Regions from separate parts of the Homo sapiens genome. Here regions 2 and 3 are each reported to be linked to region 1. The links are microRNA targets in miRTarBase. Many come from high-throughput screens and were not tested one by one. Region 1 holds a microRNA gene; each other region holds the end of a gene's coding sequence. Distances are from middle to middle.
What was found. Region 1 holds the annotated microRNA hsa-miR-3127-3p (UCCCCUUCUGCAGGCCUGCUGG, at 3,391-3,412, shown strand). A microRNA usually pairs through its seed, bases 2 to 8, with sites in the 3' UTR of a target mRNA and lowers its output. Matches are read on the target gene's strand: a 7mer-m8 pairs with bases 2 to 8, a 7mer-A1 pairs with bases 2 to 7 and ends in A, and an 8mer does both.

Region 1 (6,777 bases):
ATGCTCCAAAATCCAAAACTTTTTGAGTACCAACATGATGCTCAAAAGAAATGCTCATTGGAGCATTTTGTAGTTCAGATTTTCAGATTTGGGATGCCCAATGGCGTGTATTCTGCAAATATTCCAAAATCCAAAAAAATCTGAAATCTGAAACACTTCTGATCCCCAGTGAGGAATAAGGGATACTCAGCCTGTCAAAGCTGCCTTGCTTTAATTCCCATCCCCATGTGGTGACATGGTTTAGCTAGATGCCCAGGCCCTTCCAGGCACTGTCTTTCTGGAGGGCACTCCTGTATGGACAGCCTCCAGCAGGCACAGAGGCCTGGGGGCGGACCCCAGGGTCCCGGCCTGGCCCGCTGCCGCCCTGCTGGAGGGCCTCACAGATCTCTTGAACTTGTTGGCTCATCTCTAGGAAGATACTGGGGTATTTTCAATCGAGTCCAGCCATGGCTTTGTCTAGCAAGACGCTAAATGTTTTTTGACCAGAACCTGTAGTGGGAAATACATATATCATAGCCCCTGGCATGTGTGTGAAAAACTTTCACAATGCAGTACCCCCCCCCCCATCACATGGGGTGTATTGTGAGAATTTTTACTTTAGTCATGAGACCTCACATTCTCTCTGCTCTCCCTAAGAGGCCCTTAGAAGTTCTTAACAGCCCATCTTGGGCTGGGGGATTTTCTGTGGCCTTAAAGACCTGGAAAACATCCTCCACCGAGGGTATTTAGGATGAGTTCTTTAGTCCCTAGAGCGAGGCCCTTGGATTGTGAAGGGGAAGCCATGCAGAAGACCCTGACTTGACCTTCCCAGATTTCCGGGGGCCTTTCTTCCTAGGCTGCTCCAAACCTGTGTTCCTGCGAGTGGGGTATGGCACACAGGACTCATTCCACCTAGACTGTGGACCTAGCCCTTCTTGGCTGGACCCTCTTGCCACTCATGGGGCTGGGGCCATAAGAACAGGGTGTGGCCTTCAAAAAGGGGTCTGGGAAGACCCACCACCCCACAGGGTTTCTGTGGAGGGTCCTGCCCCATGCCAGCCTCCTTCCCTCACTTTGGGTTGAGGGGGTGGCCCCTCTCTAATTGTAGTCTCTGCCCCACCTAATCACAGTGCTCGGCCTCTCTGTGCCCTTGTCAGTTTGGGTCTTTCCCCTCCCCAAGAGTTCCAGAAGCCCCTGATAAGTGATACCAGACAGGGTCTTTTTTTTTTTTTTTTTTTTTTTTTTTTTTTGAGACAGAGTCTTGCTCTGTTGCCCAGGCTGGAGTGCAGTGGCGTGATCTCGGCTCACTGCAACCTCTGCCTCCCGGGTTCAAGCAATTCTCCTGCCTCAGCCTTCCGAGTAGCTGGGACTACAGGTGTGTACTACCACACCTAGCTGATTTTTGTATTTTTAGTAGAGATGGGGTTTTACCGTGTTGGCCAGGCTGGTCTCAAACTCCTGGCCTCAAGCAATCTGCCCGCTTCAGCCCGTCCAAGGTGCTGGGATTACAGATGTGAGCCATTGCTCCCAGCATTGCCATTTTTATCCGATTTAAACAAGTAGTCCTGGCCTGGCGTGGTGGCTCATTCCTGTATTCCCAGCACTTTGGGAGGCTGAGATGGGAGGACTGCTTGAGCCCAGGAGTTTGAGACCAGCTTGAGCAACATAGCGAGATCCATCTCTACAAAAAATAAAAGAGTTAGCCAGGCATGGTGGAGCACACCTGTGGTCTCAGCTACTCGGGAGGCTGAGGTGGGAGGATCTCTTGAGCCCAGAAGTTGGCGGCTGCAGTGAGCTATGATTGCGCCACTGCACTCCAGCCTGGGTAACAGAGCTAGACCCTGTCCTTCCTCCACAAAAACAGAGAAAAACAAAAAAGTGGTCCTTAACGACATGCTTTTAAAAATTACTTTTAGTTTTCCTTTTCATAAAAGCAATGTCTGTTTGCAGTAGAAACGTCAGGAAAGATGGAAAAGATAAAAACCACCATGACCCCATCCTGGTGACTTATGACCCTACGTCTAGAGTTAATGTTTTGGTTGAGGGAGTCTCATGACTGGCCTCTGGGCTCTTGTCTGACTTGCTGCATTGTCCCACAGGGAAGTCCCACCTGGCCATCGTGCAGAAGGTAAACAACGAGGGTGAGGGTGACCCCTTCTACGAGGTCCTGGGCCTGGTCACCCTGGAGGACGTGATCGAGGAGATCATCAAGTCGGAGATCCTGGACGAGTCCGACATGTACAGTGAGTCCAGCCTTCCACAGGGCCCAGGACCCCTTTCCTGCTTGGATCGAAACTTGGTGTCCCTAGCTGGAAGGGCCATAGTGCAGGGACACAGGAGGCCTAGCATCCAGAGGCCCAGTGGCTGGGTGCCCTGCACTGGCCGGGGTGAGCAGGGAGCAGGTTGCTGAGAGCAGTGCCCGGAGGCTGCCTTCACCCTCGGCCTTTGTGCCTCGGCGTCAGCCCAGGACCCTGCCAGCCAGAGCCTGCTGCTCCTGCGTGGGACTAGGGGCTGGAGAGCAGGAGCTGCGGGGCGGGTTCCAGTCTCTTCCTAAGTCCTCAGGGGTCTGTGTTCTCAATTCCACGCTCTTCTTCCGGCAGCTGACAACCGAAGCCGGAAGCGGGTGTCTGAGAAGAACAAGCGTGACTTCTCTGCCTTCAAGGATGCGGACAATGAGCTCAAAGTGAAAATCTCCCCGCAGCTCCTCCTGGCCGCTCATCGCTTCCTAGCCACAGGTAGCATGAGGAGGACCTTCCGGTCTTGGTGGAAATACGGTCACGGGGGAGAAGTCCTGGGTTTCCGGCTGCTTTCCCCCCATAGGACGAGGGCTGCAGCAGGTGAGGGGTGCAGAGACAACACAGCCACCCCTGGAAGGGGCCGGGTATCTGCTCCACCCCTGGGGATCTCCCTGCGATTCATTTGCCATTAATGGGCGGCTACTGCAAACTTCTAGGAAGCATCCAAGTTACTATATTTAATAGTTTGGGAAATAATGACTAGGCACTATGGCTTATACCTGTAATCCCAGCACTTTGGGAGGCCGAGGCAGGAGGATTGCATGAGCCCAGGAGTTCGAGACCAGCCTGAGCAACATGGCGAGACCCCATCTCTACAAAAAATACAAAAGCCAGGCATGGTGGTGCCCTCCTGTAGTCCCAGCTACTTGGGAGGCTATGAGGTGGGACAGTTGCATGTCTGTGGTCCCAGCTACTCAGGAGGCTGATGTGGGAGGACCGCTTGAGCCCAGGAGTTTGAAGCTGCAGTAAGTTGTGAATGCACCACTGCACTCAGCCTGGGCCACAGAACAAGATTCTGTCTCAAAAATAACAAAAAAGAAAATAACCACTGAGGTGGGCCCCTAGGCTGGCCAGGCCCATCAGGGCTTGTGGAATGGGAAGGAGAAGGGACGCTTCCCCTTCTGCAGGCCTGCTGGGTGTGGCTGGACCCCTCGTGTGCTCACCCACTCTGAGGAGCTTGCATCCAGCTCTGCTCTTACTCTCCAGCTCTCCCCTTTGCAGACGTGTGCTGGTTCCCGCAGGAATTCACTTCTAGTTCAGAGACATTTCTCTCTTTTCAGCCCTGATTCAAAGCTCCACTGGGGACTTGGGTGACAGGTTCTGCTCTGCCCGCTCTGTCCCCCTCTTCCCCTGGCCCAATTCATCTTCCTTCCCACCCCTTACTTGCTAAAGGGGTGGCAATTCCCTCTCCATTATTTTTCCTGTGGGATATTGATGCTGATGCAATAATTATAGTCTATATATTTTAGTATATATGGACAGCACATATATACTAAGTGCTGTCCATGTGCTATCCCATTCACCCTCACAACCACCCTGTGAAGCTTTTACCCCCATATTACAGATGAGGAAACTGAGATGCAGGTTAAGTAATTTGCCCAAGGTCATGTGCTGTTCTTGCAGGAGCCACTGTTCAAGCCCAGGCAGGCAGGCAGCCTTGTATCCAACCAGTCAGAAGCCAAGCGTGCTCCCTCCCCAGGGAGGTGCAGAACGAGGGCCGGCCGAGCAGGGCGGGAGTCGTCTGAGCACAGCGTGGCTGCTGTGGTTGGGGTGGAGGCACAGCAGTGATCGAGCTTTAGGGCCACCTGGCCAGCCCCGTGTGAGGTCTCTTCTCTCTCCTCCTACAGAGGTCTCTCAGTTTAGCCCCTCCCTGATATCAGAGAAGATCCTGCTGCGGCTACTCAAGTACCCAGATGTCATTCAGGAACTCAAGTTTGACGAGCACAATAAGTACTACGCCCGCCATTACCTGTACACCCGAAATAAGCCGGCCGACTACTTCATCCTCATCCTGCAGGTGAGCCCGCTCAGCCCTGGGCCTGCCACCTGCTCCCCCTGGCACTGCAGCAACCCCCAGGCCCTCTCTCCCACCTGCTGCGGAGGTGCATGGCTTCCCTGCCTGGGGAGCCTGCTGCCTGCCCTTGAGCCCCGCCTGCCCCACGTGGCCATCCTCTCCCTGAGAGGCCACTCTTGATCTCACAGGTCAGGCCCCTGAGCTCTCCAGGGCTCCAGTACCGGCCCTTCCTCCTGCCCCACTGTCCCTTGTTCCTCACTCCCCATCCTGCCTCATCCTTTGTTTCCTCCCTCACTTGGTCTCTAACTCCAGCCCTGTGTTTTTTCAGGGGAAGGTGGAGGTGGAGGCAGGGAAGGAGAACATGAAGTTTGAGACGGGCGCCTTCTCCTACTATGGGACTATGGCCCTGACCTCGGTCCCCTCCGGTGAGTTGTTGGGCATGGTCTTTGCTGCCCTTTGGCCCCCCTGCAGCTGGGGAGCCATGGACCGACACCAGAACTGAGCATGGGCCCGAGAGCTCATAGCCAGCTGGCTGGGGCAGAGGGAGGCTGGTGAGGCGGGAGCCGCCAGGGCCTGGAGCGGGTGGTGTGGAAGAGCAGAGGGAGCTGCCACTTTGGATGGGGTCCAGAAGCTGGAGGGGAAAAGAGGAGTGAGGGATTTTAGAGTAAAGGCCTGGAGGCAGCGGAGGGCATGTCCAGAGGTTGTGAGGAGACCAGCCTGCTTGGAGAGGAGGCCTGTGGGGAGGAAGGCCCAGGGCCCTGCTCCTGAGGACAGGAGGGGAGTCTGAGCATCCAAAGTGACTGGGGTCAGGAGCCAGGCCAGGGCCTGTTTGCCAGGGCAGGCTGCAGATGGGTTTGGCTTTTCGGAGGACGCGGCTACTGGGTTTTGGTTAGAGGTCAGCTCCGATGGAATAAAGGGCCTTGGGGACAGACAGAAGGGAGACTGGGCACCCTCCGAGAGGTGTTATGGAAGGTCCGGGGATGCGCCACTCTGGCCGCCCCAGTGCCCTCTCCTGTGCTGAGTGGCTCAGGCTTTCCCCGCAGAGCCCCACAGACAAGGCCCCGCAGGCCCAGGTCTCGCCAGCTCATCTCCTCGCTCCTCTCCAGGCTTCGGTCCTGGGGCGAGGTTGCTGCAGGGTAGAGAGAGAAAGTCCACTTTGGTGCTGGAGAACAGGCCACGCCAGTGGGGTACGAGCTGCAGCTCCCAGAGAACCTCTGTGCTGTGCCTCTCACTGTCCTTTGACAAAAAGGACCCCGAGGGGGAACGGGGGTAGGGCACCCATGAATACTGACACCCAGCTTGGCTTATCCACCATGTCCTCGGCCCCTCCACCAGATGAGTGGGGCATGGCAGGCTCCCTGGGCAGGGGACAGACAGGGCCCCAGAGCGGGGCTCTGAGCAGGTTAACCCTATCAGATGCCTCAGGCCTGGGGATGACTTCCTGTGCCTCCAAGAGCAGCTGTTCTCTGTTCAGTTTGAGGAAATCTCATTCAGAAGGGCGGGCAGGCACGGGAGGCTTCCCCCAGGCACTGTTTGTGCAGTGAAGCCTCAGAGGCCCGGTTAGGGCCCAGGCTCTGTCCGTTGACCCATAGTCTCTCTGTTCCCACTTGGTGTGGCCAGAAGAGAGGGGAGATGACTGGGCACACTCAGCCAGCTTCTGCCTGTCTCCGCACAGGGCTCACCGCTGTGCCCTGAGCACCCTTCCCAGCAGAGCCATGTCCCTTTCTCCACTGGGCCCATCTCTGCCCAAAGCAGCCTGGCCCCGTCAGGTCTGCCTCTGTCCTGTGCCTGTGGTTCCGTGTCCTGTCTCCTGACTGCGCCCATCACTGACCTTCTCTTTTGCTCCAGTGCCTTCAGTCCAGGTCGGGTGTCCGCCTGGCAAGCGGAACTCCCTGCTCTGCTGGCTCACAGGTAACGTGGCACAGCTGAGGGTCACGCTGCCACCTGCTGCCTGTGCCTGCACACTGCAGCTGCATTAACCTCCCCACATGGACCCGGACCCCCGCCTGCTCAATGTGGGCCGCCAGACCTCAGTGGCTCTGCTTGGCTGGGGCCCAATTTCTAGGCAGCTTTGCTGCCTCAGCTCTAGAAGGGGCCCCCAAAGATCTCTTGGTGCTTGAGATCACACACTCATAGACACATACACACAGAGACACACAGAGAGATACACATACAGATACACATAGCCATAGATACACGCAGAGACACACACAGTGAGAGACCACATGCAGAGAGACCGCACACACAGAGAGAGACCACACACACACAGAGACCACACACAGAGAGAGACCACACACAGAGATAGCACACACACAGAGAGACCACACACACACAGAGACCACACACAGAGATAGCACACACACAGAGAGACCACACACACAGAGACCACACACAGAGACCACACGCAGAGAGACCACACACATGCAGAGAGACCACACACACACACACACAGAGACCACACGCAGAGAGACCACACACACGCAGAGA
Region 2 (6,777 bases), not on the chromosome of region 1:
CCTTCCCACTCCTCCCCTTCTTCCGGGAGAACAAAACCAGGTGAGAGTGACCTGTGCTCGAGGAGTCTAGGAGCACACAAATGTCCTCTGCTTAGACTCCAAATAATCCAGGAGCGGGCAGGGAGGCTGCAGTCTTATTCTGAGTTGGCCACCCAGAAAGCTGGACCTGGCAGGCCCAGGATGGACATGGAACAGAGGAAATGGGATCTCAATCACACCGTGGGAAATCGAGGTATCAGGAAGGCTTCTACCTGGCTTAGCTTACTCCACCCTTCCTGGGTTGGAGGTGCTAACTGAGGTGATCTCTGGGGGACGCTTCCTTTTCTTAGTTGATGGGACTGAATCATGATTCTGGCTGAGATGGGAATGGGGTGAAGTCTTGGCAAAGAAAGACCCTCTATTGGCCAAGACAGGAATGAGCTGTCTGGAGGACCATGCATTTCCCTATCAGGAAAATGACAGGCACACACAGTTAAGGGATGCTGGTGTAAAACTCACCATTAATATTTCAAGCAGCATTATTTATTGATCACTTTTCTGGCTGGGACAAAAGGAGAGGGTAATTCATAGGGGATGCAGGGCTGGTAGGGTCAACTTGGGAAAAAGGTCAGGGAAAGGTAGATCATTGAGGAGCCTCACCCCCAGCCCCTGCAAGAATACTATGGGATTCCAGGATGTGGAGACTAGGGACTTTGTCTTTTTCTTTTATTTTTTACTTTTCTTTTTTTTTTGAGATGGAGTCTCACATCGTCGCCTGGGCTGGAGTGTAATGGCGCAATCTCAGCTCACTGCAACCTCCCCCTCCCAGGTTCAAGCGATTCTCCTGCCTCAGCCTCCGAGTAGCTGGGATTACAGGTGTCTGCCACCATGTCACACCTGGCCTGACTTTGTCTTTTTCAACTCCATAGTACCCCAGATGAAAATACAGGAAGGGTCAGGGGGCACCTGGAGCAGGCCTGGGACTGCCACTGTGGCCATCAGGGAGACCATATCCAGGGAATGTCACAGCTATATGAGCTTCCCTGCCTCTGGACCCAACTTCTCCTTCCTACCTCCCCGCCCCAGTCCCCATCCCTTGCTGCCTCAGGGGTCCCTCTCCCCTCTTGATCCTGAATTCAGCTCCAGCAGCCTCTCTAGATGCCATTTCAGAAGCCCAGGTTGGGGCCAAGTGCGGTGGCTCACGTCTTTAATCCCAGCACTTTGGGAGGTGGGCGGATCACTTGAGGCCAGGAGTTCGAGACCAGCCTGGCCAACATGGCAAAATCCCATCTCTATTAAAAAGGAAAAAAAGGCCGGGCGCGGTGGCTCACGCCTGTAATTCCAGCACTTTGGGAGGCCGAGGCGGGCGGATCACGAGGTCAAGAGATTGAGACCATCCTGGCTAACACGGTGAAACCCCGTCTTCACTAAAAATACAAAAAATTATCCGGGCGTTGTGGCGGGTGTCTGTAGTCCCAGCTACTCCGGAGGCTGAGGCAGGAGAATGGCGTGAGCCCAGGAGGTGGAGCTTGCAGCGAGCCGAGATCGCGCCACTGCACTCCAGCCTGGGCGACAGAGCGAGACTCCATATTAAAAAAAAAAAAAAAAAAAAAAAAGCAAAAAGTAGCCAGGCATGGTGGCCTGTGCCTGTAATCCCAGCCACTTGGGAGACTGAGGCAGGAGAATCTCGTGAACTCAGGAGGCGTAGGTTGTAGTAAGCCAAGATCGCGCCACTGCACTCCAGCCTGGGCGACAGAGCTCCGAGACTCTGTCTCAAAAAAAAAAAAAAAAAAATCATCCCAGGGTGAGCTTGGCAATTTATCTGTTCGGGGGAGGGTGCTTGCTGGGTGCTGGAACCTCACTGCAAGTGGGGGGCTTCTTCTAGGTCTGACCATCTCCTGGGGCAGTAGGTGTGCACACAGACTGGGCTTAGGGGGAGACTGCTGGAGAACCCACAGCTGTCCTGTTCACCCACAAGAATGCTTTCTTCATGAACCTCCAACTCCAGGGAGCGGAGGATGAGGCACTCTGCTCACCAAACCTGGAGCCTACTGGCCGCGGGAGAGGATTGTCCGCGGGGCCGGGGAATCCCACATAGGGAGGCAGCTGCGCCACCTAGTGGGCTTTTCCATCCTCGCAGGCATCCCTCCCACGCCTCGCCGCCTCCAGCCTGGATATGGCACCGTTTCAGGCAGGACACACACAAAAGCCGCTGTCCGGTAAGGACAGGAGATGCCCTCCTCCTCCCGACGGACCTGACCCAGCTCAGAGAGGGAGAAACTGGGGGGATGTGGGAGGGGGGTGATCGTGCACTGGCGGAAATTGAAGATAGTGGGGAAGCCAGGAGGGGCTTTGGGCCTGCAAACAGCCTCTCCCTGTCATTCTGGATGCCACAGATATGGGGACCATGGCTCAGAGCCCCCAAGGCCCTCCCTTCTGTGCCCGCCCTACCTCCCTCCAGGCCAAGCAAAGCTGGGCTCAGCTCTGCCGATCAAGGGAGAGCTGGCAGAGGCTGGATGGAGCTGCTGGCTTTCCTCTGACGTCACAGCCTGGAAATCCCATTTTAAGCAGGTTCTCTGGGTGTAGGGCACCCACAAGAAAGGGAGGGGGGGCCAGCTGAAGAAGCTAGAGACCTGAGGCTGTTATAGTCAGGTACCTCAGGCCTGGAGGGCTGCCCAGCGATCCCAAGGAGGCCTGGGCATGGGACCCAGCGCTAGCCTGCCCCAGTCCCTACCCAAAGCTAATACCTCTCAAAGGCTCCTGGGGACCCAGGCAGTGATCGAGCACCCTCCACATAGCTCTGGCCATCCACCTATTTCTGACATCTCTTTCCCACTACCCTGGCTTGGAGAGATCTACGGAGGCAGAGGGGAAAGGGGAGAGGGGAGATTGTCCCAGGGAATGAGGGGACAGCAAGGGGTCACCTAGGCCCAGATGTGTGCCACCAGCCAGCCTCTTTCCCAGGAGCCTTTCCACCCGTTCTTCTTGTCACCCTCCATCTCTTCTCTCCTCTGCACCACAGGGGGCAGGCCCTGTGCCCAGAGTTCTAGAAGCCTGAATGTTTCCATAGCAACAAACCAATGAGCTTGGAAATCTGAGCATGTTCCTGTGGACACAGGGAACCCCTGATGTGCACGGAGAGCTTGACAATGCAGAATCTGGATGTGACCTGCCTAGCCACCAGTCACTGTAGATGTGAGCATGCTCCTCCTGAGTGTGAGCCAGTGTGTGTGTTTGTGTGTGTGTGGTATGCAGCAAATGAGATTTAGGTTAAAGAGCGCCTAACCTGGTTTCCTGGGCATATGGTAGCTGTTAGCGTGGGACTGCAGCATCTTACTCTCTGGGGACTTTTCTAGAATGAATCCCTCCCCTAAATTTTACTGTGGTAGCTTCCTCTCCTTTCCGATGGAAAAATGAGCCAAAATTGCTGAGAGGCTGATGGTGAAGGTGATGCCCCTCAGAGGGCTGGTTGACTGGAGGATTCCAAGGAAAGACAAAAGGGACACCTCACATCCCCCACTGTGACCTCACTTCAGGGGGCTCTTGGCTAGCTTGGCTCAAGTGTGGAAGGTGCACATGCCCTGTGATGCCAGGGAAGGAGGAGGAAAGCCTAGTGTAGGGGCGCTTTGCCAAACTTGGGGTCCAGAGCCTGGGTCTGGGTCCTACTCATACCCCCTACCCACCCCATGGTCTGCTTCGTTCATTTTCCTTCCACAGGCTGAGCTATTTCTCTGATCCCCTTTTTCCTCCCTTACGGCTCTTTTCCTTAGTCTCTCCTCCGTACCTGCCTCTGCTCCTCTGCCAGCCTTTCCCTCCCCCTGGGTTCCGGCTTCCCGGGGGCTCATCCCCAGTCAGTTGTGCTTCTTGGCCCCTGGAGCTCTGGCTCTGCGTCCCAGGGCTCGGACCCCATGCCCTGCAGCTCCCTTCTCCTCCTTTCCTCCAACCTAGCCCAGTAGTCAGGGCTGGACCTCTGCCTTTCCTGGTGCCACACAGGCTGTGCCTCTTTGTCTCAGCCCTTGGTTCCCTCTCTGTCCCCAGGGCTGGTTTCTTCACAAGCCCTTGTCCTGTCTTCCCCATCTCTGCTTCTTCGCTCAACCTCTCTGGCTCAACCCCCTTTGGTCTTTCTAGGCACAGTCCCCGAGGCCTGCCCCACAGCTCCATATCCTATCCTCTGTCCCCTGGGGGCCTCACTGGGATCTTTGTCCCCCAGAGCCTACACCTAGCACTTTCTGTTGGATACCAGAAGGTCCACTCAAGACTTGGGGTAAGATTCTGAGGGAAAAGACAGTCCTTGGGGTTGGGGCCCCTGGCCCTTCTTAGGCCTCTGGTTTTTATTTATTATTATTATTTTTTAAATAGAGACATGGCTGGGCGCGGTGTCTCACGCCTGTAATCCCAGCACTTTGGGAGGCCGAGGCGGGCAGATCACTTGAGGTCAGGAGTTCGAGACCAGCCTGGCCAACATGGTGAAACCCAGTCTCTACTAAAAATACAAAAATTAGCTGGGCATGGTGGCGCATGACTGTAATTCCAGCTACTTGGGAGGCTGAGGCATGAGAATCATTTGAACCCAGTAGGCAGAGGTTGCCGTGAGCCAAGATCGCGCCACTGCACTCCAGCCTTGGCAATACTCAGTTTCCCCCCCTAAAAAAAAATACAGATGTGATTTTCGCATGTTGCCCAGGCTGGTCTCAAAATCCTGAGTTCAAGGATCCTCCTGCCTCCACCTCCCAAAGTGCTGGGATTACAGGTGTGAGCCACCACACCCAGCTAAGCCTCTGTGGTTTTTGTTTGTTTTTTGTTTTGTTTGAGACGGAGTCTTATTCTGTCACCAGGCTGGAGTGCAGTGGCACGATCTTGGCTCACTGCAATCTCTGCCTCCCACGTTCAAGCAATTCCCCTGCCTCAGCCTCCCAAGTAGCTGGGACTACAGGCACGCGCCACCATGCCTGGTTAATTTTTGTATTTTTAGTAGAGATGGGGTTTCACCATGTTGGCCAGGATGGTCTTGATCTCCTGACCTCGTGATCTGCCCGCCTCGGCCTCCCAAAGTGCTGGGATTACAGGCATGAGCCACTGCGCCCAGCCTAGGCCTCTGGTTTTATCTTGAGTCCCAAAACCATTTTCCCAGACTGAGCCCCCTCAAGCCCATCTCTTAGCTGGGCACCAGAGCTCCTGTCAGTCACAGGCTGGCCTCCCCACTCCCCCAGCTGAACCCTGCTTCTCACTTGAGGTCCTTCCCACCTGTCAGCTGGTGTGGCAAGAACAAAGCACAGAGGCCAAAATAAATGAGGTGCCAGAGTTTGGTTTATTGGCTCATCCAGTGCCAAAGGTCCAATGGGCACCCTCTTCCCAAGGAACCGGGAGCCCCGCGGCTCCTGCATTTCTCTTTCTCCTTCACGTGTTCCTCCTGGCCCTGACTGAAGCCGTGGCAGAAGCTGGGGCGGGTGTGAGCAGAGGCTGGGTTCTGCCAGGGGTCTTAGGGCCCAGTCTGCTTGGTACAGGATGGGGACCCTGGGCAAGAGGGGATGGACCCCAGGGGCAGAGGAGAGGGGCCCACTCAGCAGGGGCCTGTACCAGACAGAGCAGGGGTGGGCCCTGAGGAGCACGGGAGTCCAGCCCAGGGGCACGGTGGCAATGGGGTGACCTAAAAGGGAGCAAGGTCATAGGAGCAGGTGAGAGGCCCCCCAGATCCCCGTTCTCTCATGGGCTGGGTCCTCTGAGGCTCAGAGCCTAGGATGGAGGGTTGAGCAGGGAAAGGGCCAGATGACTGTGGGGCTCAGGGTGGGAGGAGGCGACTGCTGGAGGGACAGTCCTTGACCCAAACTACCCCGAGCCCTAGACCCAGAAAGACACACTCACACAGCCCTGGACCCCCCTTTTTAATGTGGGAACATGTGGCACTCAGCCCCACCCAATGACCAGGAAAAGAGCCCCCAGCTGCAGCTCTGGCCTGGCCATCCTGGTCGCTGAAGCACAGGCCAATCCCTGTCTTCCATCCACAGCTGCACCTGGAGGCCCCACCCAGGGTCCCCAACGTCCTCCCCGTGTGCTCCCTTTCCCCCATGTGCCTTCAGGCCCGTCCTTGGTCCATCTGGGCTAGGACTTCCCCCTCCCTGCTCCCAAACCAAGGCGAGCAGTGGAAACACGACAGGACCTCTGAGAAGCGGATTGCTATGGGCTTCAGCAAGGCACTGGGTGGGTGGGGCAGGGCGGGGCTGCAGCGGAACAGCGGTGGAGGCCGAGCAGTCCCCACCTCCTTGGGTGGCTCAGTCCTCAGCCTCTGGTCCACCCTCTACCCTCAACCCCCACAGCTGGGCCTCCTTCCTCTTTTCCAAGCCCCTTCCAGAAGAGTGGCCACTGGGCAGGCACCGGAAATGGCCATCTGCGGGGCCCAGGGGCCTGAGACACCTAGGCTACTGGCACAGTGTGGAGCAGGGGCTGGGTCTGAGGCCCCTCCTGAGGCTTCATCCTTGCTCTGCAGCCTGCGGGGGTGGAGGGGCTCAAGCTGAGTCGCCCCCGCCAGAGGTCTTCTTCTTGGGCCGGGTCTTCAGTGTCTTGGAAGCCAGTGGCTGTGGAAAGAAGGAGGAAGATGGGGCTCAGCCTGGAGCCGCCACCCCCTGCCTGTTTCCCCAAGCTCTGGCCAGTGCCCTCACCTCAGCTTTGGGCGCTTTTTTGATGGGTTTGGCCCTCTTGGGAGCTTTGTCTCCCATGTCATCCTCAGAAGCCTCTGTCCGGGAATCTGCCGGGTTTGTGCTGGACCTTAGACTCAGGGCAGGGTCATCTCCTGGGTGCAGG
Region 3 (6,777 bases), 110 Mb from region 1:
GCTCCCAACTGACTCCCTCTCCAATATTGTCTTCAGCCTCAGGTTATAAACCTTGTATCCACTAGTCCATGCAGGGTCATAAAGGACCATCACCCTGCCTCAATATGGCCTAACTGCAGGACCATCTCAGCTCTAAAGAATTAGCTGAGGACTTCCCCGACTACATCCCAGCCCAATTTCTTCCTCTTTCCCAGTCTGTCTTCTTTCCAAGATCAGAATATTGATCTTGGAAAAAGCATTCCCATATGAACTTTTCACACCCTAATCTCAATCTTTGAGTCTATTTCCCCAAGGAACCTGACCTGCAACAACATTCTAAGTCCAAAGCCAAGAAAATCACTTGATTTTCACTTGGACAACCCAACTATTTCTGATGATTTTTTTTTTTCTTGCCTGTGCTTCTAATTTGTAGGGCAAGGGAAAAAAGCTGCCTTCAAATTTTTCTGATTCTTAATGTTTTATGAAAACAGAAAACAACCCAATAACAGCTTACCTCATTTGGTAGATCACCCAGGGATATTATTGAAGCTCCCCACCTCTAACCCACCCTGCCCCATCCACGTTAACTTCCATCTCCAAAGTTAATGAATCTTAAAGAAACTGAACTCTGCCGGGCGCGGTGGCTCACGCCTGTAATCCCAGCACATTGGGAGGCTGAGACAGGTGGATCATGAAGAGATCGAGACCACCCTGGCTAACACGGTGAAACCCCATCTCTATTAAAAATACAAAAAATTAGCCGGACCGTGGTGGCAGGCACCTGTAGTCCCAGCTACTCGGGAGGCTGAGCCAGGAGAATGGCGTGAATACGGGAGGCGGAGCTTGCAGTGAGCTGAGATCGTGCCCCGCACTCCAGCCTGGGTGACAGAGCGAATATGCATTCCCAATAACATACCTAAGTGGGACTGGCTTGTCATTATGGTGTTGGTGATACTGCCAGGCTTTATTTTGTTTTAAACAATCTTTCATATTCATGGTGCAGTACTGACATTTTATGGATTCAGTAAGCTATGGACATTTCCATTTCATGTGTATTAGAATTGTGTTGAACTGGTATATCACAGAATGCTCACAACTTTTAATCCATCTTTATTAAAGTGAAACTACTACTTCAATATATGCAGAAAACAACATATTGGATATTTTCACCTCTGGGATAAAGGTTCAAAAGGAAGAGAACGTCCTGTTTTTAAGATTTTATAAAAGAAATCTATCTCTAGTACCAAATACCATATTGAGATTATAATATTCTTGCAGTCTAAATTTAAGCTATTGTTTAAACTTTTGCATTGTAAAAAGAAAAGTTCATGTGTGTGTGTGAGATGTCAAAGTGTATCATAGATAATCCTAAAACAATATAACAATCATTTAACCCAAAGTCAATGCCCTTTAAATGGAATGTATCTTTTTCATTATTTGGTTATGAAATATACAGAAGGTACTGGGGAAGCAACAATGGAAGAGGCAGAAGCATTCTTGGCCCTCAAGGAGCTTACACTCTACAGGGCAATACTACCACTGAATGAGCAATTACAAGTCCAATACAAAAGGAGCTTATATGTAGGAAGCTAACCTCTCAGGCAGGGATGAGATTTAAAACTTTTAATGTCATCCTATGCGTTGTTAAGGAAGCAGGGAAAGCTTGGGAAAGAACTGCATTAAGACATTTGAGCAAGGGTAAAACAGAAGGGGAAAACCTCAGCTCTTGACTTGAAATAGAAAACCTATTCCCTCCCTCTCCCTCTCCCTCCCCCTCCCTCTCCCTCTCCCTCTCCCTCTCCCTCCACGGTCTCCCTCTGATGCCGAGCCAAGGCTGGACGGTACTGCTGCCATCTCGGCTCACTGCAACCTCCCTGCCTGATTCTCCTGCCTCAGCCTGCCGAGTGCCTGCGATTGCAGGCGCGCACCGCCACGCCTGACTGGTTTTCGGTTTTTTTTGGTGGAGACGGGGTTTCGCTGTGTTGGCCGGGCTGGTCTCCAGCTCCTAGCCGCGAGTGATCCGCCAGCCTCGGCCTCCCGAGGTGCCGGGATTGCAGATGGAGTCTCGTTCACTCAGTGCTCAATGGTGCCCAGGCTGGAGTGCAGTGGCGTGATCTCGGCTCGCTGCAACCACCTCCCAGCCGCCTGCCTTGGCCTCCCGGAGAGCCGAGATTGCAGCCTCTGCCTGGCCGCCACCCCGTCTGGGAAGTGAGGAGCGTCTCTGCTTGGCCACCCATCGTCTGGGATGTGAGGAGCCCCTCTGCCTGGCTGCCCAGTCTGGAAAGTGAGGAGCGTCTCTGCCCGGCCGCCATCCCATCTGGGAAGCGAGGAGCGCCTCTTCCCCGCCGCCATCCCATCTAGGAAGTGAGGAGCGTCTCTGCCCGGCCGCCCATCGTCTGAGATGTGGGGAGCACCTCTGCCCCGCCGCCCTGTCTGGGATGTGAGGAGCGCCTCTGCTGGGCCGCAGCCCTGTCTGGGAGGTGGGGAGCGTCTCTGCCCGGCCGCTCCGTCTGAGAAGTGAGGAAACCCTCTGCCTGGCAACCGCCCCGTCTGAGAAGTGAGGAGCCCCTCCGTCCGGCAACCACCCCGTCTGGGAAGTGAGGAGCGTCTCCGCCCAGCAGCCACCCCGTCCGGGAGGGAGGTGGGGGGGGTCAGCCCCCCGCCCGGCCAGCCGCCCCGTCCGGGAGGTGAGGGGCTCCTCTGCCCGGCCGCCCCTACTGGGAAGTGAGGAGCCCCTCTGCCTGGCCAGCCGCCCCGTCCGGGAGGGAGGTGGGGGGATCAGCCCCCCGCCTGGCCAGCCGCCCCATCCGGGAGGTGAGGGGCGCCTCTGCCCGGCCGCCCCTACTGGGAAGTGAGGAGCCCCTCTGCCCGGCCAGCCGCCCCGCCCGGGAGGGAGGTGGGGGGGTCATCCTCCCACCTGGCCAGCTGCCCCATCCGGGAGGGAGGTGGGGGGGTCAGCCCCCCGCCTGGCCAGTCGCCCCGTCCGGGAGGTGAGGGGCGCCTCTGCCCGGCCGCCCCTACTGGAAAGTGAGGAGCCCCTCTGCCCGGCCAGCCGCCCCGTCCGGGAGGGAGGCGGGGGGGGGGGGGGGGGTCGGCCAGCCGCCCGGTCCGGGAGGGAGGTGGGGGGGGTCAGCCCCCCTTCCGGCCGGCCGCCCCGTCCGGGAGGTGAGGGGCGCCTCTGCCCGGCCGCCCCTACTGGGAAGTGAGGACCCCTCTGCCCGGCCAGCCGCCCCGTCCGGGAGGGAGGTGGGGGGGACAGCCCCCCGCCCAGCCAGCCGCCCTATCCAGGAGGTGAGGGGCGCGTCTGCCCGGCCGTCCCTACTGGGAAGTGAGGAGCCCCTCTGCCTGGCCAGCCGCCCCGTCCGGGAGGGTGGTGGGGGGGTCAGCCCCCCGCCCGGCCAGCCGCCCCATCCGGGAGGTGAGGGGCGCTTCTGCCCGGCCGCCCCTACTGGGAAGTGAGGAGCCCCTCTGCCCGGCCACGACCCCGTCTGGGAGGTGTGCCCAGCGGCTCATTGGGGATGGGCCACGATGACAATGGCGGTTTTGTGGAATAGAAAGGCGGGAAGGGTGGGGAAAAAATTGAGAAATCGGATGGTTGCCGGGTCTGTGTGGATAGAAGTAGACATGGGAGACTTTTCATTTTGTTCTGTACTAAGAAAAATTCTTCTGCCTTGGGATCCTGTTGATCTGTGACCTTATCCCCAACCCTGTGCTCTCTGAAACATGTGCTGTGTCCACTCAGGGTTAAATGGATTAAGGGCGGTGCAAGATGTGCTTTGTTAAACAGATGCTTGAAGGCAGCATGCTCGTTAAGAGTCATCACCACTCCCTAATCTTAAGTACCCAGGGACACAAACACTGCGGAAGGCCAAGGCCGCAGGGTCCTCTGCCTAGGAAAACCAGAGACCTTTGTTCACTTGTTTATCTGCTGACCTTCCCTCCACTATTGTCCTATGACCCTGCCAAATCCCCCTCTGCGAGAAACACCCAAGAATGATCAATAAAAAAAAAATAAATTAATTAAAAAAAAAAAAAAAAAAAGAAAACCTATTCAAGATTTCAGGTGCTTTTTTTTTTTTTTTTTTTTTTTTTTTTTGAGATGGAGTCTCGCTCTTGTCCCCCAGGCTGGAGTACAATGGTGCAATCTCAGCTCACTGCAACCTCTGCCTCCCAGGTTCAAGCGATTCTCCTGCCTCAGCCTCCTGAGTAGCTGGGATTACAGGCGCCTGACACCACGCCCGGCTAATTTTTGTATTTTTAGTAGAGATGGGGTTTCACCATGTTGGCCAGGCTGGTCTTGAACTCCTGACCTCAGGTGATCTGCCCGCCTCGGCCTCCCAAAGTGGTGGGATTACAGGCATGAGCCACCGCATCCGGCCAGATTTCAGGTGCTTTTAAAAAGTAACTGAAATTTTATTTTTACTTAATTCCTTTATTTATATATATATATATACCTGAAATTAAGGCAAAAAGCATGATATGAGACCCAAAAAAGCTCATATCCTACTCAACTAAAAGTGTTTAGGACCTAAACAGGGCAAAAGATTTAAATAGCACTAACAGCTCAAGGAATGTATAGGTTAAACCTTTTGTTTTACATCCAGAAAATTAGAAAACTCAGCTAAACATTGTATATATCACAAGGTTTTAAAAATAATTTGTAAGATTTAATCTTACCAAGAAAGCTTACTCATTTAAAGACTTCTTTATACCGGCCCTTCATATCATCAGTGGAAACTGTTTATTAAAAGGGAGGAGTATGGGATACACAAATAGCATAAATCGAAATCTCACACTTAATCCTTTAATGTTAATTGCATTTCAGACTGAGTAAAGTCTGACTAAAAATCACAGCAATGGGACAAAGCACTGCTTTGTTTTAAAACTGCACATGTGCTTTCTCCCCTGAGAACCTTTGGCTTAGACTTTTTGTACAGTAAGACATTTCATTAAATATGGTTAGATTTGCAGTCTAAGACCTTAAGTGACACACTCAATGACAACATTCTTATAAATTATAGCCAATTATAAGTCCTCCTTCTGGTTTCTCTTCTGTGCTTCGTAAATATGTACATCTTTTTCAGGATCGTAGTGAACCTTTCTCACAGTAAATTGCCTCTCCAGCATTGCTAAGAAGTTGTTATCCCGTTCATAGCGAATTCGGCATGCTAAAAGAATCACAGAGTGATTGCTACAGAGATGTTCCAGTGTCTGAAGAAGATCTGTGAATGTTTCTTCTAAATATATGATATCAGCACCAAGTATCAGGTCAAATTCTCCAGGAGAAAAACTCCCCAAATTTTGTCCCCAAGTCAGCTCCTTAACAACAGTTTTAGTTTGGATATGAGGAGGTAAGTTGGCTTGAACGTTTGATTTAAGAAATTCTAATGCTACTTTTCGATCCGTGATAGTCACATGAGCACCTACAATGTGGAACAAAGAAAAAGTGATGTGTACATCAGTACAATTCTGTTAGGTAGAGAGGGGGTCAAGTTAAATGTAGAGTGTCTCTTAAATATTGCATCTGATATGCATAATATCAATCACACCTTTCATGGACAGCTGCAATAGAAAAATGACTCACAGCTCCTTTTGCATTAACTACTGGTAGAAGTGACTCTTGATTTGCCTCTATGACATACCTGCTATTTGCTAAAATTGTGCCTATAAATTGCAGAATTGGCTGGGTGTGGTGGCTCATGCCTTTAATCCCAGCACTTTGGGAGGCCAAAGCGGGTGGATCACCTGAGGTCAGGAGTTGGAGACCAGCCTGGCCAACATGGCCAACTAAAAATACAAAATTAGCCAGGCATGGTGGCGGGCACCTGTAATCCCAGCTACTCGGGAGGCTGAGGCAGGGGAATCACTTAAACCTGGGAGGCAGAGGTTGCAGTGAGCTGAGATCTCGCCACTGCACTCCAGCCTGGGTGACAAGAGCAAAACTCCATCTCAAAAAAAAGTAGAATTAACCAGTGACACGGCTGATGCTTCTGAATTCTGCCAACAGAGCTGGCCCATACTTTATTCATTGGGTCATTATCTTTAAGTCAGTTGGCCGCAGGCTAAAATGGAATCCAAGAATGAAATATCTGGGAGCAGGCCAGGTACAGTGGCTCATGCCTGTAATCCCAGCACTTAGGGAGGCTGAGGTGGGAGAAGCCCTTGAGCCCAGGAGTTCAAGACCAGCCTGGGTAACACAGGGAGACTCCATCTCTACAAATAATTTTTTTTAATTAAGCACAGTGCACACCTGTGGTCTTAACTACTCAGGAGGCGGAGGTGGGATATCATGTGAGTATGGGAGATCGAGGCTGCAGTGAACTGTTATTGTGCCTGGGCAACAGAGCAACACCCAGTCTCAAAAAAAAAAAAAATATCTGGGAGCAGACTATTATTGCAAAGATGACAAGATACCAAAAACAGAGAAAGGCTGTTTTGTAAGGTTACAGTTTAAAAAAGAATCATGGAAGAAATAAATTGGCTACTAAGAAATCCCAGTCCACTTCTCCTTAGGCTGTTATGAAGCAGCCAACTTACATGTTTTACGTATTTCTTGAAAAATTGTAAGCTTAAAAATTACTTAATTTTATTAATGTAGGTTAAAATGCTTGTTCTTAATGCTAAGTTTCTACACACAGTGTAGAAAAACTAAACTGTTTCTTATGGGTTGTTGACAAAAAGATCCTTTTTTTTGAACCAATGTGGGTAAGAGAAGACCTTAAGGTGGAGCAAGCACATAAGGTCAGGTCGGATCCACCTCATCTACGTTGTAGGAAAGATATAATATGTGTAGTACTC

Region 2: the mRNA of REEP2 is a reported target of hsa-miR-3127-3p. Seed matches in the 3' UTR shown: 7mer-m8 at 6,319-6,325.
Region 3: miRTarBase lists METTL21A as a target of hsa-miR-3127-3p. The part of its 3' UTR that is shown has no 7-base or 8-base seed match.

Annotation. Positions count from the first base shown.
Region 1 is chr2:96,794,934-96,801,710 of GRCh38, forward strand. MIR3127 (microRNA 3127) reads left to right here and starts at 3,345; the gene lies at 3,345-3,420. CNNM4 (cyclin and CBS domain divalent metal cation transport mediator 4) reads left to right here. Exons shown (of 7, transcript NM_020184.4): 2 at 2,079-2,222; 3 at 2,580-2,714; 4 at 4,124-4,293; 5 at 4,619-4,715. RefSeq lists enhancers at 5,778-6,107, 6,348-6,427.
Region 2 is chr5:138,445,457-138,452,233 of GRCh38, reverse strand. It overlaps REEP2 (receptor accessory protein 2), which reads right to left. Exons shown (of 8, transcript NM_001271803.2): 7 at 6,636-6,766; 8 at 5,269-6,551. The coding sequence ends at 6,483. Among named protein-coding and RNA genes, the nearest start is that of REEP2, 9.8 kb to the right of the region's middle. RefSeq lists enhancers at 2,169-2,258, 2,329-2,388.
Region 3 is chr2:207,608,042-207,614,818 of GRCh38, forward strand. It overlaps METTL21A (methyltransferase 21A, HSPA lysine), which reads right to left. Exons shown (of 4, transcript NM_001127395.5): 4 at 4,698-5,402. The coding sequence ends at 5,005. Among named protein-coding and RNA genes, the nearest start is that of METTL21A, 14 kb to the right of the region's middle.